Homo sapiens: one gene and its partners. The protein of the gene in region 4 purifies or fractionates together with the protein of the main gene of each other region. This does not show direct contact. Each region holds a gene or a part of one and is shown on either strand. Other genes may lie near its edges.

Region 1 (3,500 bases), on a different chromosome or scaffold from region 4:
CCCTGCGTAGGGGACATTGGGGTCCCCTTACCTGATGTCCTTTGAGGGCATCTAAAGTAATGAATGCTCTGTCTCCACTGCTGGCAGCATCTGACAGCAACGATGCTGTCGTAAAATTTAATAAAGACAGAGTGCGTGCAAGGAGGAGCCTCACATTTCTCCTTCAGTCTGCGGGGCGTCTGGGCTGCAAGGTGGTGTCAGAGGAGAACCTGGCATACTCGTGGGCATTCATCCTGGGCACACTGGCTGAGCAGGGCCGCTCCCCTCAGGCCCTGGGCATTCACCCTGGGCACACTGGCTGAGCAGGGCCGCTCCCCTCAGGCCCTGGGCATTCACCCTGGGCACACTGGCTGAGCAGGGCCGCTCCCCTCAGGCCCTGGGCATTCACCCTGGGCACACTGGCTGAGCAGGGCCGCTCCCCTCAGGCCCTGGGCATTCACCCTGGGCACACTGGCTGAGTAAGGCCGTGCCCCTCAGGCCCCGGAAGTGGGTTGGCCGTGGCTTCGACAGTTCTCTGTGGCTGATGGCAGTGCGGCCGCGATGCCCTGCTGTGCCATGCTTGCTAGTCATGTTCTTTTCCTCCTAGATCTCCATTTGCCAGGAGATGCCCAGCCTGGAGGTGATCACGCTCAGGTACCTCGCTCCTGCTGTCATGCTCAGCCTGGGGCCTGGAAGCCGGGGCAGAGCCTCACGTCCCTCCAGTGGGACCCAGCACTGTGACATAACCTGGAAACCTCCAACACAGACTGAGGGCGGCTTCCAGAAGGGGAGGGGCCGGGACAGCGAGAGCTGGGCCTACCCTGTGGCCCCCATGTTCAGCCCTCCTTCCTCAGAGCCTCACCTGGGCCTCCTGATGGCTCCTGTCCCCTGCCTGCCCTGCTGTACGCCTGCCCACCCTTGGCCTGTGTGCTCCGATAAGCCATTGCTGTGTTCACTGGGCCAGTCGGTGGTGGAGCCCTCCTAAGGATTCACGGTGGCCCGCCCTGGCCGCCCCCACGGTGGCCACATCTGCCCTGGGACCCCCAGAGTCCTGGCCTCTTCTGCCCCCCAGTGCCACCACTGCCTACCAGTTTCTCTGCACCCCATGACCTGTGCCCGTCTTCTGGGGTCACTGCCCTCCCAGCAGACTAAGGGAAGCTTGAATGAACAAATGTTACTGGACTTTCAGGCAGTTGGGGTGTATTTGGGGGCTCTGGGGAAGAGAAGAGCTCCCTTTATCCCTGAATTCCCTCCTGCCTACTGTGGGACCCACGGAGGGAGCAGACGCTCATGGCTCACCACTGCCCACCAGACGCTGGATGGGCGCCTTCTGTGGGTTTCCGCATTTAAAAGCTCACAAGGGTTTAAACCCTGTGGGGAAGGCCCACCCCTCTGGCAGCTCAGAAGTCTCTAGGGCTTGCCCTCTGAGAGTGGGTATTGCAGGCCCCTGGTCCCTGACTGTGACCTACCTTCTTGATCTCACAGGCAGCCACGGGGTAGGCCAGCCCCTGCCCATCCTCCGTAATGCCCTCTGAGGTTGGCATTGCCATGTTGATGCCCGTGCCCAGCCTGCTGCCCGCCATGGGCTGAGGCCAGTCCATCTGGTGTTCAGGCATCCCCAGCGCGGGCACCAGCCTGTCCTGCCCGAGCCTTGCTGAATGAATGAAATGGGCTTGGAGGCATGCTCATGGGTCAAATCTCAGCCCTCCCATCTATTGGCTGGCTAACCTTGGGCGAGGCATGGCCCTCTCTGTGCCTCAGTTTCCTTTCTGTAACATGGAGGTATTACAAGTGCCCACCCCACAGGGAGATGAGGAGGAGATGGAGCCCGAGTCCAGAGGTTGAGCAGGGGTGCGCGTGCCCGCCCAGAGGTTGAGCGGGGGGGGGGGGGGGGTGCGCGTGCCCGCCCAGAGGTTGAGGGGGGGTGCGCGTGCCTGCCGCGGGGCTCGTTTCACTAGTCAGGCGACACAGTGAGGCTGGGATTTCAGGCCTGCCTCCGAAAGGCTTACCTGACAGGGAAACGTGGAGCTTGTGGTTCCCACGGTGGCAGGAAGCTTGGGGCGGGGCTGTGGATCCAGCCCTATCCCTGCCGCTCACTGAGTCACCCAGGGGCCACAGGGCCTCCGAGCATCAGGCCGCTCGTGTGTGGGGCCATTTCTGTCACATCTCGGGAGGGACAGGACCCCAGGGGTGTTGACCGAGCTCAGGTGCGTGGTGCCTGCACGCCTGACTGCACTGGAGCGGAGCAGGAAGCCTCGAGGCCGCGGACGCGGTCGGTACATCACGCTGCTGCCTGTGCCTGAGGCAGACCCCATCCTGGAAAGAGTCCCACAGCCGGAGTTTTGCTCTTGGTAAAATGGGGCGGCCTCATAGCTAGGAGCTGCATGAGACCTGGGAAACCCCGAGTGAAGGGATGGCATGGGGAGGGGGGCTCAGGACGGCAGGCTGCCCATGGGGGCCTGGTGACCGCCCTTCTGAGGCGCCTGCCGGACGCGAGTGCAGCCCTCCAGGCAGGGGGCCCTGGCTCCGCGCCTTTGAGGGCCTGCGGGAGCGGCTCCGCGTGTTCGCTTGTGGAGGGGACGGACCCCACGCTGCAGGGTAAAGCCTGCAGGTCCCCGCTCCAGGCCTGCTGTTTCTCTTCTCTGACGCGTCCACGTTCTGTAGAATGGAAATGAGGCCCATCCCCAGTGTTGCCGCCCTCAAGTGGGGGTTTGGAAGGTCCGTGCTCACTCCCATGTCACGTGGAGCTGGCTCCTAGTTTTTGCCATGAGTTTTTCTGGCCGCTCCCTGCTTTGGGGCAACATGATATGTCCCCTGAGAGGCCTTAATTTTCCTCACCTGTGAAGGAGGGCCACATCCCCCACCTCCCGCACTCTAGCGCCCTGAGGAGCTGATGTGGAGCGTCGGGCCAAGGGGCTGTTGCTGGTGGGGTCCACCCCAGTCCGCCTTTGAGTTCAGGGCCTGGCCTTCCTACAGCTCTCTCCTCGGCCCAGGTCCTGCTGCACGTGACTTGTGACATCCGATTTAGGCTTCTCAGGAGAGGGCAGGGACACAGGTCCCATGAGTGCCTTTTACTGGGGGTGGGGATTGAGAGGTGGCCCTGGGGGCCCTGGCCACGTCCCTCGCTGACTGTGCTGGTCTCCGTGCAGTGTCAACAGCATCTCCACCCTGGAGCCTGTGAGCCGGTGCCAGCGCCTGAGTGAGCTGTACCTGCGGAGGAACCGCATCCCCAGCCTGGCTGAGCTCTTCTACCTGAAGGGGCTGCCGCGTCTGCGGGTGCTGTGGCTGGCCGAGAACCCGTGCTGCGGCACCAGCCCCCACCGCTACCGCATGACCGTGCTGCGCACCCTGCCGCGCCTACAGAAGCTGGACAACCAGGGTAGGTGGCCGCAGCGGAGTCACCGGCCCTCCCAAAACAATCCCTGGAAGGGGATGTCCCCAGCCCTCTTTTCTCTTCTCCTTTTCTGCAAATACCTGGTCTGGCGGGACATAGATGTGTCCTGTGAAGTCTCCTCCAGAGG
Region 2 (3,500 bases), on a different chromosome or scaffold from region 4:
TGGATTTAGCCAAATTATGAAAATTTGAAGAGCATTTTGATGATTGCTAAAATGCTATTCAGCTTCCATTATTATCTGCCAGAAAATGTCCACAGCTTGTTAAAACTCTCAAGAATAGCTGTACATTTTGTGTTTCATGTTTGCAGGCTTGTTAATGCACTCGGTCATAACAGGAACACATCATACCTTTTCTTTTATTACTCTTCAGTTACCGCGCTTGAATGCCTACAGAGGTTACTGTAGTAACCAGCTGGCAGCCAAAGCTCTTCTTGATCAAAAGAAACAGGATCCAAGAGTCCAAGACTTCCTCCAGCGATGTCTCGAGTCTCCCTTCAGTCGAAAACTAGATCTTTGGAGTTTCCTAGATATCCCTCGAAGTCGCCTAGTCAAATACCCTTTACTGTTAAAAGAAATTCTTAAACACACTCCAAAAGAGCACCCTGATGTTCAGCTTCTGGAGGATGCTGTAAGTAGTCCCTTAAGTGATTGTTTTGTTTTTTAAGTTTATACATTAGGCTGCTTTAGAACGTTATCTTCTGAAGATGCTGATTCACATCAGCATAGTGAATTGTTTTGTTGTTTTAAGTACCCAGTGCGTTAGTACGCTGTGCACTAAGCAATAAGGAGCTGTGTATGCTGGACTTCGCACATTTTGTATCTTAAGGGACAGGATTCTCATCTGATCTCACCTTGTCACCTTTGAACAAATCACTCAATTTGGCTAGGACTGTTTCTTGATCTATAAAATGAACAGACTGGCAGAATTAACTGATTTCTAGAGTCCCTTCAAGCTTTAAAGTTCTTCCATTCCATATGACATTTTTGCTCTGCAGGAAGCAGAATGAGTTAATAAACTGAAGCTGCTCTGTCAATTTTATTTATCATTTTCAGATATTGATAATACAGGGAGTCCTCTCTGATATCAACTTGAAGAAAGGTGAATCCGAGTGCCAGTATTACATCGACAAGCTGGAGTACCTGGATGAAAAGCAGAGGGACCCCAGAATCGAAGCGAGCAAAGTGCTGCTGTGCCATGGGGAGCTGCGGAGCAAGAGTGGACATGTAGGTGACTTTTGCTGCCGTGGCAGAGCAGCCTTCCCTCCTGCCTCTTTAACTTTTACACGTTTGTTATGAAGCAGGCTTGTAAAGGGAAAGTCATGACATAGTAAAAGAAGGTTGCCAATTTTAATTTTATATTACCAGCTTGATAAAGCCAACAAAGAAGATACCTTAAATGTCTCAGTGGAGAATCAGTAATACTTTATTTTTTAGTTTCGAAGCATAAATCAACTTGTTAGGCCAGGGGTTCCTGTCTAAATACAGTATTAGTTCCATAATGCTTAATAAAAAAGCATCCTTCAAAAAAAACTTCTAAGAGTTTATCTTATGCTTATGAAAGTGGTTTTTCGCACTACATAACAAATTTCTGAAGCAGATTGAATGAATGCAAATGTATTTTTTAAATGCTAATTATAAAAGTACCTGCTAGAACTAAGTGCAGTCACGGAATGGTATTTTTGTTTCATCATGCATTTTCAAAAGCCCAATTTATAAGTTGGAGTTTTGTTTAAAAAAATTTGAAATCTGACATCTTTGATTTTTCCCTCACGAGGGGAAAATTTATAAAGGTATAAATTTGTGTGGGACAAAATAGAACCATTAACATTTTACCAGCTTGCATTTTTAATCCCTCCTTCGTGTTAGAAAACTGTGGTATACAACGCTAGTGTTTCAAGTCATGTTGCTACTAATAGGTCTTTGTGATGCAGAGCATTCACTTAGCTGCTGCTTAATCTGATATTACATACCAATAAGAAACATTTTATTTATTCTGAGATTGGAAAAACTTTCCAAATAGAACATGCTTAGCCTTGAAATTGCCATCTTTATGGATTACTAGATTTGTCACTTAGAGAGATCTTCGAAAAATAAATCTGATGAAATTAATAATGTCGAGTTATTTTAGCAATATATTTCAGTCACTTAAAAACACAAGTTTCCTATTTAGCGTTTGTTTCCCATTTCTCCAGAAACTTTACATTTTCCTGTTTCAAGACATCTTGGTTCTGACTCGGCCCGTCACACGGAACGAACGGCACTCTTACCAGGTTTACCGGCAGCCAATCCCAGTCCAAGAGCTAGTCCTAGAAGACCTGCAGGATGGAGATGTGAGAATGGGAGGCTCCTTTCGAGGAGCTTTCAGTAACTCAGAGAAAGGTAAAATGCAGGCCTTCAATAATTTAAAGAAATAGAAGCTCAGAACTGAAGTGAATTTAGTTTTGCCTTTAAGAATTCTAGAGATGAAATGGCTCCATTGTCCTATACTTGTTACATCCATTGAGTTGTCCAGGCCTTCCCAGCTCGAACACCCGCAGGTGTATCTAAGAAATAATGCATAGGCTTAATGTATTCACATTGACATAAATAAATTGCCATAAATTGACAGTCACGTTAAGATTGTATGACCACTTTGTCTAGAATAAACCTTTTTTTAGCCTGATTTCTTTTTTTTTTCCAATTTTTTTTTTCAGCTAAAAATATCTTTAGAATTCGCTTCCATGACCCCTCTCCAGCCCAGTCTCACACTCTGCAAGCCAATGACGTGTTCCACAAGCAGCAGTGGTTCAACTGTATTCGAGCGGCCATTGCCCCCTTCCAGTCGGCAGGCAGTCCACCTGAGCTGCAGGGCCTGCCGGAGCTGCACGAAGAGTGTGAGGGGAACCACCCCTCTGCGAGGAAACTCACAGCCCAGAGGAGGGCATCCACAGTTTCCAGTGTTACTCAGGTAGAAGTTGATGAAAACGCTTACAGATGTGGCTCTGGCATGCAGATGGCAGAGGACAGCAAGAGCTTAAAGACACACCAGACACAGCCCGGCATCCGAAGAGCGAGGGACAAAGCCCTTTCTGGTGGCAAACGGAAAGAGACTTTGGTGTAGAGAAGGCTCTGTGTGTTAACTGATGGGAGAGACTGTTTGTTTATAAATGTGTACAGTTTTGTTTTCTCGTAAGGGGAGCATCATAGGGTTACTTTATACCAGTTGTAACATTTTCATTGTTTTTGGTTGTTCTTTTTTCTTTTTTTAATGGCAGCTAAAGATATACAGATTACTGTTAAATTGCAGTCCTTTTTTTTTTAAAGATATTTTCTTGAATTATTTAGAACATGGTAAGCCTGGTATTTTTTAATCAAACAAAATATTTATGAAATGGGTTTTCTCTTAATTCTGGATTCATCATGGCTTTCTAATACCAATTGTAATATTTACAATATTCACCAAAACTTAGAATTTTGCAAATGCTGGAATTCTGCCAGTGTTTCTTTGCTAAGCCTTGCATGCAAAATTTGAAATTTTAACATTGGCACCCAAAACCTACATGGAATGTATGTCTGGAGTATTTCAAACTTTACATTGAAACATAATTTCCTTGGAAAACAAACCATAAGCCTGAGGAGGTTTTTATCAACTGGAATGCTTTATATTAGTTTGTTTTTCACTG
Region 3 (3,500 bases), on a different chromosome or scaffold from region 4:
AAGAGTGCTTAACTTGGGTTCCGTGGTCCAGTTTCATGGGGCTTATGAATTCCCTAGAATTGTATGTGATATTTTAGGAAATACACGTTTATCTAGGGAGCTACTCTGTAGCTTTTGGTTAACTTTAGTGGGGTCTGTGGCCCAGCTGAGATTATGAATTACTGACCTGAAGACAACCTTACAGCTGGTAATGACAGCTCTATAGGCCTGTACTGTCTTAGAGGCTCTTATGTTGAAGTCAAGTAGGAAGGTGGATTTTCTTCTTGAATTTATAGTGTTTTGCCCCTTAATAAATTAAGTGGCCATCACAATTTTATATTATAACTTTGTTTTCAGGATTGCCAATGTCCGTGCTGAAATTTGTTAAAATTTAACAGAAATTTATGTAACATGATTCTATTTAGTGGTAAATCTCTTTAGAGTTTTTTAAAGAACTTTTTGAAATTTTAAAAATTAAAGTGCCTTTGCTTCCATATTCAGCAGCTAAGTGGAATTGTTTATATACTAGAAAATATAATTTTAAGGCTATCCTTTAATTTTTTTTAACTTTACAATATAGGAGTATTTACACTTCTTAATTGGTTTGGGGGCAAACACTTGTAAGTTTTCTCTTTCTTTCATGATTTCCCCCTATGAAGACTCCCTGAAACTCAGCTGCTTTTTTTTTAATCTGAGAAAAAGGAGCATTTTATGTTAGAAGGTATCAGAAAAATAATTTTCTTGCTTTTTAATATACTGACCTTCAATCTTTCAGAGCAGTTCATACAGTAGATTTTACAGCTGACAAATATCACGTGGTCTCTGGGGCTGATGATTATACAGTTAAATTATGGGATATTCCAAACTCCAAAGAAATTTTGACATTTAAAGAACACTCTGATTATGTGAGGTGTGGATGTGCTAGCAAACTTAATCCGGATCTCTTTATAACAGGTTGGTGAACTCTATTCCCTCCTGAAGCAAATAATCTCACGGGGATGTACTTTAATGTTGCTATGGGACTCTTTTGGGATGGAGGGGTTTAAATTTTTTTTATAAAGGAATATGTTTCTGATTAATTCTTCAGTTTTTAAATTAATTTTTATGTATGTATGTTTGCATTTATTTTCAGACAGGGTCTCACTCTGTTGCCCAGGCTGGAGTGCAGTGATGTGACCATAGCTCACTGCATCTGCTACCTCCTGGGCTCAAGTGATCCTCCCACATAAGCCTCCCAAGTAGCTGGGACTACAGGTGCCCACCACCACGTCCAGCTACTTTGTGTATTTTTTTGTAGAGACGGTTTTGCCATGTTGCCCAGGCTGGTCTCGAACTCCTGGGCTCAAGTGATCCACCTACCTCAATTTCCTCCCGGAGGACTGGGATTACAAGTGTGAGCCACCATGCCTGGCTTCCAATTGTTTTTTATTTTCTTATTCTTCTTTTGTTGATTGTTCATGTCTTCCAAATGTGTTTGGAAAAATCAGGCTGTCTTGAAAACATAATAGACTCTCAGAACTGTAATGTATAGTACCCTGCCTCAAGCAGCCAAGAAACAAAGAGTGCAGTTTAGCCTTTGTGGGTGCCTTTACAAAGATTTCCAGATGATTCAGTAGTGACAGTAGTCCAAAGAAAGAAATATTTTAAGATCAGAGCAAGTTAGATTCTGTATAGTATTATGTAGTGCTTCTTCAGACACGATCAGTAGTAGATGGTTTGGAGGTCCTGTGTCTTCATGAATATACATATATGTCTTTTTAAAACTCCATCTAAGCTTTTTTTCCTTTTAAAATTTATATCTGGATACACACAGTTTTTGTTGTTTTAAACAGTCAAACTAAAAATTCAAAAATTGACATTTTAGGATCATATGATCATACTGTGAAGATGTTTGATGCACGAACGAGTGAGAGTGTTCTCTCCGTTGAGCATGGGCAGCCAGTGGAGAGTGTCCTACTTTTCCCCTCTGGAGGTCTTCTGGTGTCAGCAGGTACTTCTTAAAAATAGCTTTCACCAATATTGTTGGTTTTGAATCACGTTTGTTTAAAATCAGTTGCTCTTTGTAATTTATCAGTGTGCATTTGAATTGCATATCTAAGTCTTTGTTCAAACAGTTGATAGGTAGGACTGGCAAGCAGTTATCATTTATTGTGTACCTAATGTGAGCCAGGCACTGTGCTGTTACATATGAACTCTAATGCCCTAGATGATGCTACAAGGTAGTTAGCTTTTTCCCTACTTTACAGCAATGAAATAAAAGTTTTAACTTATTTTTCAAGGCAAAGTGGTAAGTGGCAGATCTGAAATCACAGAACTCGAGAGCTCTGTGTATTTAGCCCTGTGCCATCTTATTTATTTAGCCCTGTGCCATCTTATTTAACCCCAGAAATTTAGCCCTGTGCCATCTTATTTAACCCCAGAAATTTAGCTCTTATGTATTTAGCCCTGTGCCATCTTATTTAACCCCAGAAATTTAGCTCATACTCCTTTTACTCCTACCTAAGAGATCTGCAGCAGCTTTTGAAAATCAGTTATTTGAGATCTAGTAGGCTTGTCTCTTTTTCTGTGACTCTCTTGATTGAAATGCCACTACCCAGCAAATAGCTGCTAGTACTAGAGAAAGGAGATAATGTGGCCTCAAAAGGGGCCTTGGTACATTTTTCAACAAGTTGGGACTGAGATGTTTTTCTCATTTTGCACATATTGCATTTTCATAATTACAGTGGAAGAAGTAAATTGGCTTTTTTCATTTGTAAATAAAGTAAAAATGTGTTCATATTAGAAGAATGTATAGGTAGTATGTATACTTGACAACATATATATTGCTGTGTGTACCTCCTTTTTTTTTTTTTCTTAATTCTAAAATCTGGCTAGAAATTACTCTGTTTTATATTCTTTTCCCCAGTACCTATTTGATTTAAAAATAAGTTGAGGCGGGATGTGGTTGCTCACGCCTGTAATCCTAGCACTTTGGGAGGCTGAGGCAGGCGGATAGCTTGAGTCCAGGAGTTTGAGACCAGCCTGGGCAACATAGCAAGACTCTAAGACTCCATCTTTAATTAAAAAAAGAAAAAAGTTGATAATGTCAGATGTGTCTACTTTTCTTGCTGTTATTCTGACAAATGGAAAAAATATCATGTTGAACAGGGAGAATAGAAAGCTGTGTGCTGATCTCCACTGTGTGTCACTAGCTAATTGTGACCTCGGGCAATCCCTTAAGGTCTCTAGACCTTGAAAATGAGAGGGTTGGACTAGATCAGTGATTTCAACTGTGATCCCTCTTGTGAGGTGCCACATAGGAGTGGAGAGGTGGGAACTGTGAGTTGGGTTCCAACTCCTGTTCCCCAGTCAAGATTTCAGTCTCCCCTTCCATCCCTTTTTCTGTCTTTCCATATTAGACTTTTTTGCTTGATATTTTGCTGCAGATCTACATTATTCACTTCCACTGCTATATAGAATTTCTTTTAAAAAATGATTTTATTATAATTTTCTTAAAATGGACTCTTTCAGTTATACATTTA
Region 4 (3,045 bases):
CTGAGGATGCATTTGACATGCCAACTCTCATTCACAAAAATACATTGTTAGATTTTTGTTGAACTGCCCCACACAGCACACTAATATGGGGTGTAACACACATACTTGTAACTCCAAGCTGCTTTCAGGAGCTACTCAACTCAATGAGATTGCCTTTGCAGTTAGGGAAGCAACTACTGAACTTATGTATGAAAGAAAAGAACTGTATTCCCTGCATAACAAGAGATTATTTTGGAGACAGTTGATAAAAACCATACATCCTTTTTACTGTTAAGTCATAAAGAGGTGTCAAAATTAAAAGCAAAAATTACAGGGTAAGACTTAGGAAAACTACTAGGGGTGTCATGGGAAGTGAAAATGGGACTAGGCGCAGGGCAATATGAATTAATGAATGTGGGAAGGACAAGGATGGGGAGAACAGTAAGCATGTGCTGAAGATACTAAGGGAGAGGATCTGGTGAAAAATTTGTTGTTAGACAAGCTCCTAGGTAAAGAAACAATGGGATAAGATTTCTCAACCCCACTATGTGCTTAAGAGTCATCCTGGCCATTGGTGCTGTCTCTGTTATCCTCTCCTTCCTCAGCATCTTTTTCATTATTCTTGATCAAATGAAGCTGGTTGTCCCCCTGATCTTCATTATCATCATCATCCAGTGGGTCCCCCTCCTCAGCAGAGTCTTCTGCACCCCCCTCAGACTCCATCTTTACATGAGTCTCATCTTTCTTCATGGAGCTACTGCTCTGCTCCTCTTCTGACTTAGCATTTTTCACCTCTACCTCTTGTTTGCTCTGTTCCTTTTCAATTTTTTCCAGGTTTTCCAGGAGAGAATCCACTTTCTGTTTTATCTGGGTCAACTCCTGCTTAATGGCCTGAAGGTCATCTCCTTTCAGCTTTCCAGACTTGGAAGATCCCCGCTTTCCACTCTTAGAATTGAAGCCACTTTTGCCCCTTCGTGAGGTGTTTCCTGATATGCGCTGGCGTTTCGAGGGCACTACAGCCAGAGCAATGGGAGGAGGAGGAGGTACACGTGCTGGGAAACTGTACATCCCATCATAATAATCCCGTTGAAAGCCATAGTCCAAGTCAAAAGAGGAGCCGTACATCTCCGCTGCGGATCGTTTCACACCTGCGTTTCCTCGGTTCACTTTTGGCTCTGCAGCCAGGTTAATAACTGCAACCTGGCTAGCAATCATTCTGCCATCCTCTCCTGCTACAGCAGCCCGGGCATTTTTCTCCTTATCATATTGAACGAAGGCAAAGCCCTTATGAACAGAGCAGCCCGCAATTTTGCCATACTTGGAAAAGATCGCCTCCACATCAGATTTCTTGACAACAAGAGTGTTGAGATTCCCAATGAACACACGGGAGTTCACGGAGTGAGGATCCATCTTGTTGGTAACGTTGCTGGCCATTGTGTTGGATGATAAGGTTTCTCAAAAAGCCAAAAACAGGAGGCGGGAGGGAGAAGAGATTCGATTCTAAGTCTCCTACTGCCGGGTTCTACGGGGAGAAACTGACTGCGGCTCGAGGCCAGAAATGCAGCCAAAACAGCTCAGTCTTCGTCTCTTCACAAAATGGCTGCCAACAAGAATTCTGAAATGATGTAAAGAAAAGCACAACAACATTTTTGAAATCACGACAAAATTGCATTTAGAAAAAAAAATCAAAGCTTCAAAGTGTTCATATGAAAAAAAGAAAAAAAGACATGATATAGTTCTATGCCATCGTAGGCTGCACTGTCACCGTTCTAGACCGGCTGACTGTAGGTCACATGGGAGTGTCCTTACAGAAATTAGTGACTTACCAGATCTGGTTGTAGTTTAGAAGGTGCTCAGACCTCAGGAAGAGCCAAGCAGGAACTCCAGGCTTGAAGACTTTGAGTTTGTCCTGTGGGTCTTTAGAAGCTTTTATTGACCTTTCTAATCACAACTCCCACCCACGCCCCTCCACGTATCCGCTGCTAGCTTCCAATCAAAAAGCGATATCTGATTGCATTTCTGAAGCTCCACTCAGTTAATCCTGATTGGGTTTTTGACTGTCCGAAGACTAATGGATTGAACGAGATATCCATTCATATCACATATGCATAATCATTTTATGAATTAAGAAATTGACAGAGTTAGGGATAGAGTGGAAATCAAGAATTCATTCACTCAAGGCCAGGTGAGGTGGCTCACACTTGTAATCCCAGCACTTTGGGAGGCCAAGGTAGGTGGATCACCTGAGGTCAGGAGTTCAAGACCAGCCTGGCCCACATGGTGAAACCCTGTCTCTACAAAAATAGAAAAGTTAGCCAGGCACGATGGTGGCTGCCTGTAGTCCAGTTACTCATGCGGCTGAGGTGGGAGAATCCCTTGAACCCTGGAGGCTGAGTTTGCAGTGAGCCAAGATTACACCATTGCCCTCCTGACTGGGCGACAGAGGGAGATTTTGTCAAAAAAAATGCATTCATTCATGAAATCCACAAACACTGATGGAATTTTACTGCTATTTCGCCTTCAAGTCCTGATGTGAGGCAGGGAAGGGGTTGATCTGTTCCAGACATTAGACAGAAAAATAAAACCTGAAAGTAGTGTTGTGGGGAGATCTTTGGCCACATCAAAATTATAAAATTTATAAAAATATTTCTAGTTAAAATAGCTGTATAAACACAGAGGAGTCGTCCCTACAAAATAAGAATAAAGATCTCCATGTATGGAATGGTCTTGTGGGTTTTATATCACCTAAGGTAGCAGTTTCTTCACTCGTGCTGGTGGAAGAGAGGTGCCACTGAGGGCTTGAGTGGTCTCAGGGCTTAGGTTAAGTCTTCTCTGGAAGAAATTGAAATGATACCTGTAAACTTTATAAGTTTAATCAGTGAAGAAGGGAGGGGGAGAAACAAAAATAAACCAAGCTTGCAGCGCATTCAGCATTCACCATGAGGTCAGCTTGCTCTCTGACCTTCTTCCTCATGGTTGCTGGCAGCTTACTGTCCCCAAATCAAGTAGACCTTAGCTTACAGTTCCCCTTAACTACCCTGCAGACAACAATTTAAGCCTTGTAAA
Region 5 (3,500 bases), on a different chromosome or scaffold from region 4:
CCGGGCTCACCCAGGCCTCGTGTTTTCTTTTCCTGATAGGTCGACACTACCCCTAAAGCAAGAAGAATATGAGGTGAGTGTCAGCTGCCAGGCTGAGCAAAGGTGAAGGGCGGAGATGTGCAGGGGAGAGGCGTGGGCCGGGTGCCAGAGCTGGGGCCAGAGGTCATGAGCCCCCTACACACCTTGCCCCCAACAGGCCTTTCTGCTCAAGCTGGTGCAGAATCTGTTTGCTGAGGGCAATGATCTGTTCCGGGAGAAGGACTATAAGCAGGCTCTGGTGCAGTACATGGAAGGGCTGAACGTGGCCGACTACGCTGCCTCTGACCAGGTGGCCCTGCCCCGGGAGCTGCTGTGCAAGCTGCATGTCAATAGGGCCGCCTGCTACTTCACCATGGTGAGCCTGGCACCCTCTTTTCTCTCCTCCTCTGCTGCCCTGATCCCCTGGATGCCCAGTCGAGCCAGGCCCATACCCCAGTGAGCCTGTAGACCAGGGCCAGCCTCCTCCCAGCCTGCTTTCAGAATTTCATTGTCTGTTCTCGTGGCTCTTAATCTCAACTGTACAACATGCTCAGCTGGAGAGCTTTTAAAAGTACGGATGCATAATAAAAAGTTTTTAAAAAAAATGATACTGATGCCCTAGCCCTAGCCCTGCCCTAGATGAAGTAAGTTAGAATCTTGGGGTGACCCTGGGCCTTGGTGGGAGTCTGACTTCTCCTGCTCCTCCCTCCCGGCCCCACTGTTTCTTCCATAGCCTCAGCCTCCTCACTGTTCCTTCCATAGCCTCAGCCTCCTCACTGTTCCTCCCATAGCCTCAGCCTCCTCACTGTTCCTCCCATAGCCTCAGCCTCCTCACTGTTTCTTCCGTAGCCTCCTCACTGTTCCTCCCATAGCCTCAGCCTCCTCACTGTTTCTTCCATAGCCTCCTCACTGTTTCTTCCATAGCCTCCTCACTGTTCCTCCCATAGTCTCAGCCTCCTCACTGTTCCTCCCATAGCCTCAGCCTCCTCACTGTTCCTCCCATAGCCTCAGCCTCCTCACTGTTTCTCCCATAGCCTCAGCCTCCTGTTTCTTTGCGGACTTCAGTGCCTTCCTCCTCCTCCTCCTCTCCTCCTTAGAGCTGCAGCCTCCTCCTCTTCCCTGTCCTGTGCACCCACTGACTCAGGTTCATGAGATCCTGTGGGAGGCTCTGCTGCAGGCTCTCTAGAGGACCCCATGACACCTCTGCCATCCAGCGAACTCTTCTGGATAAATGGCTCCTGGATGCCTCAGGGTTAACCCTTGTACACTCTGCACACAGAGCTGCCTTCATGGTCTCACTGCCTCTTAGAGATGCCATTGTTACTCTCAGCTCATCATGTTCCCAACCAAAGGCAGAGATGGAAATAGACGTGCTTGAGTGGCCGGGCTCATGGTTGTAGATCTTCAGGCCCTTCCCTGCAATATCCTGCCCGTGCCCACTGCAGCCCCATCAGCTGGACACACAGACACCCTTGATCAGAGTCTGGACACCAGAGTGCTTCCTTCTCTCCTGGAGCCTCGAGCCCTGTCCCTGACCCAAGACTTCAGCTCCTCTGTCTCTGCCAGGAAGGGAAGCTGGTGTTCCTTCCTAGGCAGGGGCAGGAGGCCTGGGGGAGGGAGGGTAACAGGTGTTGACCAGTGACCACATGCTCCTCTCTGGCAGGGCCTGTATGAGAAGGCGCTGGAGGACAGCGAGAAGGCGCTGGGCCTGGACAGTGAGAGTATCCGGGCGTTGTTCCGCAAGGCACGCGCTCTCAATGAACTGGGACGCCACAAGGAGGCCTACGAGTGCAGCAGCCGGTGTTCCCTCGCCCTGCCCCACGTGAGTGTGGCTCTGCAGCCACGCCGGTGCCTGCTCAGAGGCCAGGCTTCTGACCTTCCGGCCCTCACTTGGGCCCAGCCACCACATCCTTCTGTGTCTCACTTCCTCCCCTGTGACATGGCCATGCAGATCCTGATGTTAACACTAGCTCCCATTCTCTGAGCGCTGACTGGGTGCCAGGCACTGCTAGGATGCATTGTGTGTATTAACTCACCTAATACTGGCAATAACCCTAAGAGGCAGATACTGTGATTATTCTCATTTTAAAGATGATGAGGCCAGACACAGTGGCTCACGCCTGTAATCTCAGCACTTTCGGAGGCTGAGGCAGGCGGATCACCTGAGGTCAGGAGTTTGAGACCAGCCTGGCCAACATGGCAAAACCCCATCTCTACAAAAAATACAAAATTTAGCCGGGCATGATGGCGTGTGCCTGTTTTGCTAATTCTGTTTAGTTCACAATTAAGACCCTTTCTTGGCCAGACACAGTGGCTCATGCCTGTAATCCCAGCACTGTGGGAGGCCAAGGCGGGAGGATCACTTGAGCTCAGGAGTTTGCAACTAGCCTGAGCAACATAGCAAGACCCTGTTTCAACAAAAAATTAAAAAAAAATTAGCTGGGCATGATGGCACGCACCTGAGATCCCAGCTACTCAGGAGGCTGAGGTGGGAGGATCACTTGAGCCCAGGAGGTGGAGGTTGCAGTGAGCTGTGATTGCACCATTGCACTTCAGCCTGAGTTTGACAAAGCAAGAGCTTGTCTATTAAAAAAAAAAAAAGCCTTTCTTTATGACCATGGTCCCCTGACCCATATAGCATTTTAGAGTGTCCACAACAGATCCACACCTAGGTCTCACTGGTACTTACTCATGAGGAGGACAGGGCAGGTTTCATCCGCACCACAGCGGATAGAAAGGAGCTGGGACCCAGTTAGGGTTAGTAAATGGCCAGGGAAAGTAACTAAGGGCTCCTGGCTCTGCTTTAGGGAACTCTCTCTTTTCCCAATCTTTGTTGGGCAAATACTGACCGAGCTCCTGCTCCATGCTGGGCACTGGGGACCAGAGATGACTCCGACCCAGGCCCTGGCCTCTAGGAGATTGTCAGTGAGGTAGGAGGTAGACACGTGCACAGATGTCACAGTGTCTTCCTTGCCCTTTTGTGCCTGGACCCCAGTTTGTAGCCACCTGTTTCTTTGTTCACTGACTGTTCTCCCCCTTTAGATTGGAATCTCCATGAGGCCTGGGCCCATCTGCCCTGTTCGCTGGGGTATCCTTAGCCCCTCACTCTTGCTTGGCACGTAGTGTATGTTCTGTATTACAGCCTTGGAAGGGAAGGAAGGATGGTTGCTGTTTAGTGATCACTAAGTGTGGTCCAGGCACTGTTACAAGCTTTCTATGCCCTGCCTCCTTGGAGCCTTACAACCCTGTGCCTCATGTATGTATCGTCACTTGCTGGGGGTTGCAGGAGATTGTTTGGCGATAGAAACAAGTTGTAGAACTATATAATGTGACCTCATTCCTGTTTAAAAAAAGAAAGAGATGGCCGGGCACAGTGGCTCACGCCTGTAATCCCAACACTTTGGGAGGCCGAGGCGGGTGGATCACTTGAGGTCAGGAGTTCAAGACCAGCCTGGCCAACATGGTGAAACCCTGTCTCTACT
Region 6 (3,500 bases), on a different chromosome or scaffold from region 4:
AGCCCTAGCTTAAGGTTTTGGTGTTTTTTGTTTCTTGTTTTTCATCTTAAAGGCCCTGAAAAGTCCTGTAGGAAAGAAACACGTGTGATTTTGCTGGTGGGAGCAAGACGTGCCCAAGGCCGGGGCTGGGGAGGTAGAGAGGAGGGTTTGGATTTGGGAGATATCAGGAAGTTGAAAGCCAAGGACGCATTAAATGTGGGGTGAGGGCGTAAAGAAAGGGAGGGAGGGTGATTTCTCACTGCCTTGGGGGCAGGGAGGAGGGGAGGTGTGGGTGAGATGTTGAGAATTGTGGGAGATGCCCAGGGTGCAGTGGGGCCCGTGGCAGCCGCTGTTGCAGTCTTCAGGTGGCCCTGGAAGCCGTCACGGGGTAGGGTGGCCTGGGGTGGGGGTGGGGCATGTCCATTTACAAGGAGACGCCTGTGGGAGGAAGGTTTCTGGAAGAAGGAGGCACTGGGCACAGAGCCCAGGCGAGATACGGGCCCACAGATATGCTTTGGAGGTCCCTGCTGGCCTTGGGGAGACCGGAAGCCATGAGGGCAGCATCGAGCTCAGGGAAATTGAGGGAGAGGTGGAGGGGGGCTGGGAGGGCAGGGAGGAAGTGAGCCTGAAATACCTCTTCTTTCAAGGAGCCAAGATGAGAGGGGCAAAAAGAAGGTCCAAGTCTACATGCGGGTGGCGCGTTAAGTGGGACGGTCCAGTGTGGTTTTAGAAGGTGGGAAAGGAGCCAGGACAGGGAGGGACAGAAGGCAGCCAAGAGTGCCTGGGTCCTCACAGGTGGAGAAGTCCCGTTCAAATATGTTCTGAAGCACTAGAACCCCTTACCCTGTTCTTTCTTTTCTTTTTTTTTCTTTCTTTCTTTTTTTTTTTTTTAAGACAGAGGCTTGCTCTATCACCCAGGCTGGAGTGCAGTGGCGCAATCTCAGCTGGCTGCAACCTCTGCCTCCCAGATTTAAGCGATTCTCCGGCCTCGGCTTCCCGAGTAGCTGGGATTATAGGCGTGTGCCACCATGCCCAGCTCATTTTTGTATTTTTAGTAGAGATGGGGTTTCACCATGTTGACAAGGCTGGTCTTGAACTCCTGACCTTAAAAGATCTGCCTACCTTGTTTTCCCAAAGTGCTGGGATTACAGGCATGAGTCACTGCACCCGGCCCCCACCCCGTTCTTTCAAACACACACACAGAACCCCAATATACAAAACAAGTCTGGGCACAGTGGCTTACCCCTATAATCCCAGCACTTTGGGAAGCCAAGGCAGGTGGATCACTTGAGGCCAGGAAATTCGAAACCAGCCTGAGCAACATGGTGAGGCTTCCATCTTTATAAAAAAATTTAAAAATTGGCTGGGTGTGGTGGCACGTGCCTGCGGTCCCAGCTACTCAGGAGGCTGAGGCAGGGAGGATCCCTTGAGCCCAGAGTTCAGGTTGCAGTGAGCCATGATCGTGCCACTGCACTCCAGCAAAAACTCAAACAAACAGAGAAGGCTGTGCAGGCTGGGCGTGGTGGCTCACGCCTGTAATCCCAGCACTTTGGGAGGCCAAGGTGAGCAGATCGCTTGAGGTCAGGAGTTCAAGACCAGCCTGGCCAAAATGGTGATAACCCTGTTTCTACAACATACAAAAATTAGCCGGGTATGGCAGCATCGCACCTGTAATCCCAGCTACTTGGGAGTCTGAGGCAGGAGAATCATTCGAGCCCGGGAGGCAGAGGTTGCAGTGAGCCAAGATTGCACCACTGCCCTCCAGCCTGGGCGACAGAGAGACTCTTATCTCCAAAAAACCGCAAAAGCTGTGCAGATTAGAACAAGAGCTGGACAGATTCCCTGCTGTTGATTTCAGTCACCTCTTCCCCGACCCCTGCCAAGCCTTCCTGGCCTTCTCCTCTCCACTCTTGGTCCTACGTGGATTTCTGCCCCCAGCCCACTGTCCACCTGGGGCTTCCTCACGCCTCTTCCCATTGTCCTATTTAGGGACCTCAGGCTGTCTCTATGATGTGACCTCACCATCTCTCTAAGCCCCAGCCTTTCACATAATCTGCCTCAAGGATGTCCTCAAAGCCCCTCACATTCAATTTCACCCCTTCACCTCCCATTCCTCCTGCACCCAAGCTCAGTCATTACCCCTCTCTTCCCTCTTCCCCCTCAGACCCAGCAAGGTCCTGGCTACCTCCCTCTCTGTCCCTTGCCTCCTCCCTTCAATCACCAGGTTTACATCACTCAACTCCCTCGATGTGCCTGTGGTGTGCCCACCTCCCCTGCTCGCCTGTGTGCCCCCCACTCATCCCCCCCTGCCTGCAAGCTAAGAGAGGGCGTCCAGTTTGCTGGGTCTAACCCCAGTCCTGGTGTTGAAGAGTTATTTGGCCTGGGGCAAGGGACTTTCCTTCTCTGTGCCTCAGTTTCCTCCTCTGTAACATGGGGGTTGCCAATTGGGCCCTGGCTGCCTCCTAGCGTTGATGTAAGGCTCAGTGAGTCTACATTGGCAAGAGCAGGAAGGCTCTTAGGATTGCCGATGTTATTGTCTTTCCTGGGACCTACAAGAGCCAGTCCAGCTGGCCTGGTATTGGGGGTAGCCTCCCCTCCTTTCCACTCTAAGTGCCCATCAGCTCCCTGAGGCACCGTGTTCTCTCCCACCTGCTGGGCTTTGCATCTGCAGGCCCCTCTGCCTACAACGCCATCACCCCTTCCTCCAGCAAACTCCTGCACATCTGCACTCTCAGCCCAGATCCCCTTTCTCCTTTCCCAATGCCATCCTCCCTGGTCCAGACACACTCTTAATCCGGGCCATGTGGTGTGTGTGTGTGTGTGTGTGTGTGTGTGTTGTATCTGGTGACCCTGACCCCCGTGTTTCCCCTCTATGCCCCCACAGAGCACGTGCCCCCGGAGCTGTGGGAGCCCTTCTATACCGACCAGTACGCGCAGGAGCATGTGAAGCCCCCGGTGACACGGCTGCTGCTCTCAGCCGAGCTCTACTGCAGAGCCTGGCGCCAGGCACTGCCACAGCTTGAAACACCCCCCAACCCCTCTGCACTGCTGGCCCTGCTGGCGCGGAGGGGCACAGTGCCTGCTTTGCCCGAGCGCCCGGTGCGCGAGGCCGACCTGAGGCACCAGCCCATTCTCATGGTAGGCCCCGCCACTGCCTGTTAGACCACGCCTACCATGCTCAGCTCCTCCCCTCAAGCTCCTCCCGCCAGTCCTGGCTCCTCCCAAGTTCCCTCTATCAGTCTTGGCTCCTTTCAAGCTTTGTCGATTAAGCCTAGCTCCTCCCATCAGGCTTGGCTCCTCCCCCAGGTTCCTCCCACCAGGCCTGGCTCCTCCCCTCAAGCGCTATTAAGCCTAGTTCCTCCCACGAGGTCTGGCTCCTCCCCTCAAGCGCTATCCATTAAGCCTAGCTCCTATCAGTCTTGGCTCCTTCCCTTAAGCTATGTCCATCAAACCTAGCTCCTCCTATCATCAGTCTTGGCTCTGTCCCTTAAGCTCTGTCCATCAAACCTAGCTCCTCCCAC
Region 7 (3,500 bases), on a different chromosome or scaffold from region 4:
GTATATATAAGCCAAAACAGTGGAAAGACCAGCAATCTTCTATATTTGGCCTGGGAGTGCATTATACAGGATATTTTTTTCCTTCTGGCAGCAGATTTTTCTTTCTAATTATATAGTGTTCAAGGCTACAAGAAATTTACTTTGCATTCCCTGTGAACACACACCAGCTGGGAAGCAGAAGGATATGTGACGACTGAGCTGTGGGTTTCAGCATGCAAAATATCCATAATATGGATAGTCAAATTCTAAGGCAATATAAAATTAAGTATTATTTTATAGATCATTTTCTCTTTGTCGATTTTTGTCTGCCCCGAAATATAGTTGGAATGTCTAATTTTGTGAATGAAAGTGTTTGTTTTTGTTTTTGTTTTTAATCAAGTTACTTGGTGAAAGAAGCCAGGTCTGGTACTTTAAAAATTGTGCTGTTATTGATAATACACACTCTTAGTTTTGAGTGATGATTTCAAGGTACTGATAGGGCAACCGTACAACAAAGAGAACCACTGTTTCTCTTTACCTCTGGCCCTTACGGTTTCTCCCAGTCAGGCTGCTTTTTATGTGTTCAGCATGTTCATACCCAAGAGTCAATTCTCAGTAGCTTTAAACTTGAGGCCAAAGTGGGGAGATAGATACCTTTTTCCAACCTTTCTTTGTTTATAGAAAACCTATTAGACAGTTCTTTCTTATAGATCATAGATATATTGTAACACACTTGGGAGGTCTAAAACCCTTAAGTGGAGTATTATCCAAAATTAAAATAGTAACATTTAAATAAATTAGAAAGATATTCCACATATTTAATCTAGTAAAGTTATGTTAGAGTTCATGGTTTTCTTTCTTTCAGAAGTTGGTGTTAGTTCTTACGTGGCACCTTTTGGTGATTTCCAGGTGCATCGTTAGTTTTCTACAACCATTAGTAATGGCGGAAACCACGATTACTGTTGCACCAACCTAATAGAAAGTAGGACTGTGTATAACATGGCATTATCAAATGCAGACATTTAAAAATTAAAGCCTTGGGTAAAGTATCACAATTCATCCATGATTGGGAATCTCACTGGTATTCAATCAAAATAGTATATACCTCACATTTCCAATCTTTTTTTTTTTTTGAGACAGAGTCTCACTCTGTCTCCCAGGCTGGAGTGCAGTGGCGCGATCTCCGCTCACTGCAAGCTCCACCTCCCGGGTTCACGCCATTCTCCTGCCTCAGCCTCCCAAGTAGCTGGGACTACAGGCCCCCACCACCACGCCCGGCTAATTTTTTTGTATTTTTAGTAGAGACGGGGTTTCACCGTGTTAGCCAGGATGGTCTCTCTCTCCTGACCTCATGATCCGCCCGGCTCGGCCTTCCAAAGTGCTGGGATTACAGGCGTGAGCCACCGCGCCCGGCCAGTCTTTTGTTCTTGACATTAAACTAACAGTATCGCCTGGGCGCAGTGGCTCACGCCTGTAATCCTAGCACTTTGGGAGGCCAAGGCGGGGGGATCACGAGGTCAGGAGATTGAGACCATCCTGGCTAACACGGTGAAACCCCGTCTCTACTAAAAATACTAAAAAAATAGCCAGGCGTGGTGGCGGGCGCCTATAATCCCAGCTACTCGGGAGGCTGAGGCAGAAGAATCGCTTGAACCCGGGAGGCACAGGTTGCAGTGAGCCGAAATTTCGCCACTGCACTCCAGTCTGGTTGACAGGGTGAGACTCCATTATCAAAAAAATAGAGAAAAAAAAAAAAATAAAGCAAAACAAAACGAAAAACAAAAAAAAACACAGCATCTATACTGAGTGAACGTATATGCATATTGTATGCACTGTTGGTTTTATTTTTATTTAACCAGACTGAGAAAGAGGTAGGTTCGTAGAAACTTCAGAAAGAAACACAAATTAGGACACACTTGGAAACTACTATTACTGTGGTATTAGAATCTTTGGCATGGGAGATTGATGGCTTTAGCAAACTGTATGAAATTCAAGTATTTACTTAATTATATGGTTCACTTTATAAAATATTTAAATTCTCTTCTGACCATTTATTCAAGTGCTTCAATATGAACTTCTGAAATATTTGCATTTTATAGGTATATTTTATGTGTTTAATTTTTTCAAAAGCACTGTTTTGACTTCTCGAGGGATTCTCACATTAAGTTTATCAGGTCCAGAGATACCAGACAATTTGAACCACATGGTTAATACTAGATCATGTCATAAAGTGATATACCAATGAGAAGTTAAAAATATGATTAGAAAAGCTATTTGTTTTGCCAGTTTGATCAAAGCAAAAAAATTAGAATTGAATAATTAATTCATAAGTTTAGGATACATATAATTCAATTTCTCTAGTTAAATAGAAACAGAGTAGAACATCAAAAGTAGGCCTGTCATTTAAGGTTGACTCTCTTGCCTTGTCTATGAGTTAGGGAAATCAACCTTAATGTGGTAAAATTTTCAAATTATAAATAAGGATACTAATATTTAACCAGTATAGTAAGTTATTCTGACAGTGAGGTAGTAACATCCCAGTTTTGCTACAAAATATATCTAAAAGAATATATACAATAGCATCTATAGTTATTGTGATTTGTTTTTAAAAATTGCAGAGAATGCGACAGGGTACTCCTGAAAAAAAAAAAAGAAAAGAAAAATGAACAACATTTTGTTTTTATTTAGCTGTAACTGAAGAAATGTTGTCCCAAACTTTTTCTGTTTTGGGTCTGGTTGCCGTTGAGATCGAGTTTTCCCTTTGTAAGAGGGCTCATTGCTTGCAATTTCTTAACCCAAAAAGAAGAGGAAAATCTATACTTTAATAATGTATTTGCCTGTGAATAATACTTTAGAAAAGTAGGATTTTTTTACATTATAGATATTAGCTCACAATTACGATTACTTCTTTAGAATGAATTCCTAGATTTGCAATTAAATCAAAGAATCCACAAAATTTTAAGGAATTTTTATGCCTATTGTCAATTTATCCTTCAGAAAGATTAATCAAAATACCCCCTCATCAGTGGTATTTGAGATGCCTCTTTTTCAGTACCTTACCCAATTTAATATTGTAACTTTTTTTTCTTTTTTTGAGACAGAGTCTCGTTCTGTCGCCCAGGCTGGAATGCAATGGCATGATCTCGTCTCACTACAACCTCTGCCTCCCCAGGTTCAAGCAATTCTACTGCCTCAGCTTCCCGAGTAGCTGGGATTATAGGCACCCACCACTGCGCCTGGCTAATTTTTGTATTTTTAGTAGAGATGGGGTTTTGCCATGTTGGCCAGGCTGGTTTCAAACTCCTGACCTCAGGTGACCTGTCCGCCCCACCCTCCCAAAGTGCTAGGATTACAGGCGTGAGCCACTGCACCTGGCCTGGTATTGTAACTTTATGTATTTGATAGTTGATGGTTAAAAATGACATTGCATTTATTTTTGAATATGAATCTCTATCATTTTATTTCCCATTGTTTTAAAATAGTATTGTAATCTTATTTGATAGTGCTAGCTTGCTTTTAGC

The links.
Region 1: the proteins of HNRNPCL2 (region 4) and CFAP410 purify together in Homo sapiens (affinity purification with mass spectrometry; one large-scale study listed by BioGRID and IntAct). This does not show direct contact.
Region 2: the proteins of HNRNPCL2 (region 4) and NET1 purify together in Homo sapiens (affinity purification with mass spectrometry; one large-scale study listed by BioGRID and IntAct). This does not show direct contact.
Region 3: the proteins of HNRNPCL2 (region 4) and UTP15 purify together in Homo sapiens (affinity purification with mass spectrometry; one large-scale study listed by BioGRID and IntAct). This does not show direct contact.
Region 5: the proteins of HNRNPCL2 (region 4) and ZC3H7B purify together in Homo sapiens (affinity purification with mass spectrometry; one large-scale study listed by BioGRID and IntAct). This does not show direct contact.
Region 6: the proteins of HNRNPCL2 (region 4) and CAMSAP3 purify together in Homo sapiens (affinity purification with mass spectrometry; one large-scale study listed by BioGRID and IntAct). This does not show direct contact.
Region 7: the proteins of HNRNPCL2 (region 4) and GUCY1B1 purify together in Homo sapiens (affinity purification with mass spectrometry; one large-scale study listed by BioGRID and IntAct). This does not show direct contact.

What each region holds. Positions count from the first base shown.
Region 1 is NC_000021.9:44,332,891-44,336,390, reverse strand, and holds part of CFAP410 (nuclear encoded mitochondrial protein C21orf2), read left to right. Parts: intron 1-586; coding exon 587-633; exon of another isoform or gene 634-3,128; coding exon 3,129-3,358; intron 3,359-3,500. UniProt on the Homo sapiens protein: Plays a role in cilia formation and/or maintenance. Plays a role in the regulation of cell morphology and cytoskeletal organization. Involved in DNA damage repair.
Region 2 is NC_000010.11:5,454,057-5,457,556, forward strand, and holds part of NET1 (neuroepithelial cell-transforming gene 1 protein), read left to right. Parts: intron 1-208; coding exon 209-466; intron 467-891; coding exon 892-1,062; intron 1,063-2,030; coding exon 2,031-2,217; intron 2,218-2,531; coding exon 2,532-2,938; 3' UTR 2,939-3,500. UniProt on the Homo sapiens protein: Acts as a guanine nucleotide exchange factor (GEF) for RhoA GTPase. May be involved in activation of the SAPK/JNK pathway Stimulates genotoxic stress-induced RHOB activity in breast cancer cells leading to their cell death.
Region 3 is NC_000005.10:73,568,743-73,572,242, forward strand, and holds part of UTP15 (U3 small nucleolar RNA-associated protein 15 homolog), read left to right. Parts: intron 1-754; coding exon 755-933; intron 934-1,843; coding exon 1,844-1,969; intron 1,970-3,500. UniProt on the Homo sapiens protein: Ribosome biogenesis factor. Involved in nucleolar processing of pre-18S ribosomal RNA. Required for optimal pre-ribosomal RNA transcription by RNA polymerase I.
Region 4 is NC_000001.11:13,114,988-13,118,032, forward strand, and holds HNRNPCL2 (heterogeneous nuclear ribonucleoprotein C-like 2), read right to left. Parts: upstream 1,868-3,045; 5' UTR 1,806-1,867; intron 1,595-1,805; 5' UTR 1,414-1,594; coding exon 532-1,413; 3' UTR 501-531; downstream 1-500.
Region 5 is NC_000022.11:41,325,525-41,329,024, forward strand, and holds part of ZC3H7B (zinc finger CCCH domain-containing protein 7B), read left to right. Parts: intron 1-39; coding exon 40-73; intron 74-196; coding exon 197-394; intron 395-1,681; coding exon 1,682-1,840; intron 1,841-3,500. UniProt on the Homo sapiens protein: May be a specific regulator of miRNA biogenesis. Binds to microRNAs MIR7-1, MIR16-2 and MIR29A hairpins recognizing the 'ATA(A/T)' motif in the apical loop.
Region 6 is NC_000019.10:7,602,363-7,605,862, forward strand, and holds part of CAMSAP3 (calmodulin-regulated spectrin-associated protein 3), read left to right. Parts: intron 1-2,863; coding exon 2,864-3,117; intron 3,118-3,500. UniProt on the Homo sapiens protein: Key microtubule-organizing protein that specifically binds the minus-end of non-centrosomal microtubules and regulates their dynamics and organization.
Region 7 is NC_000004.12:155,790,021-155,793,520, forward strand, and holds part of GUCY1B1 (guanylate cyclase soluble subunit beta-1), read left to right. Parts: intron 1-3,500. UniProt on the Homo sapiens protein: Mediates responses to nitric oxide (NO) by catalyzing the biosynthesis of the signaling molecule cGMP.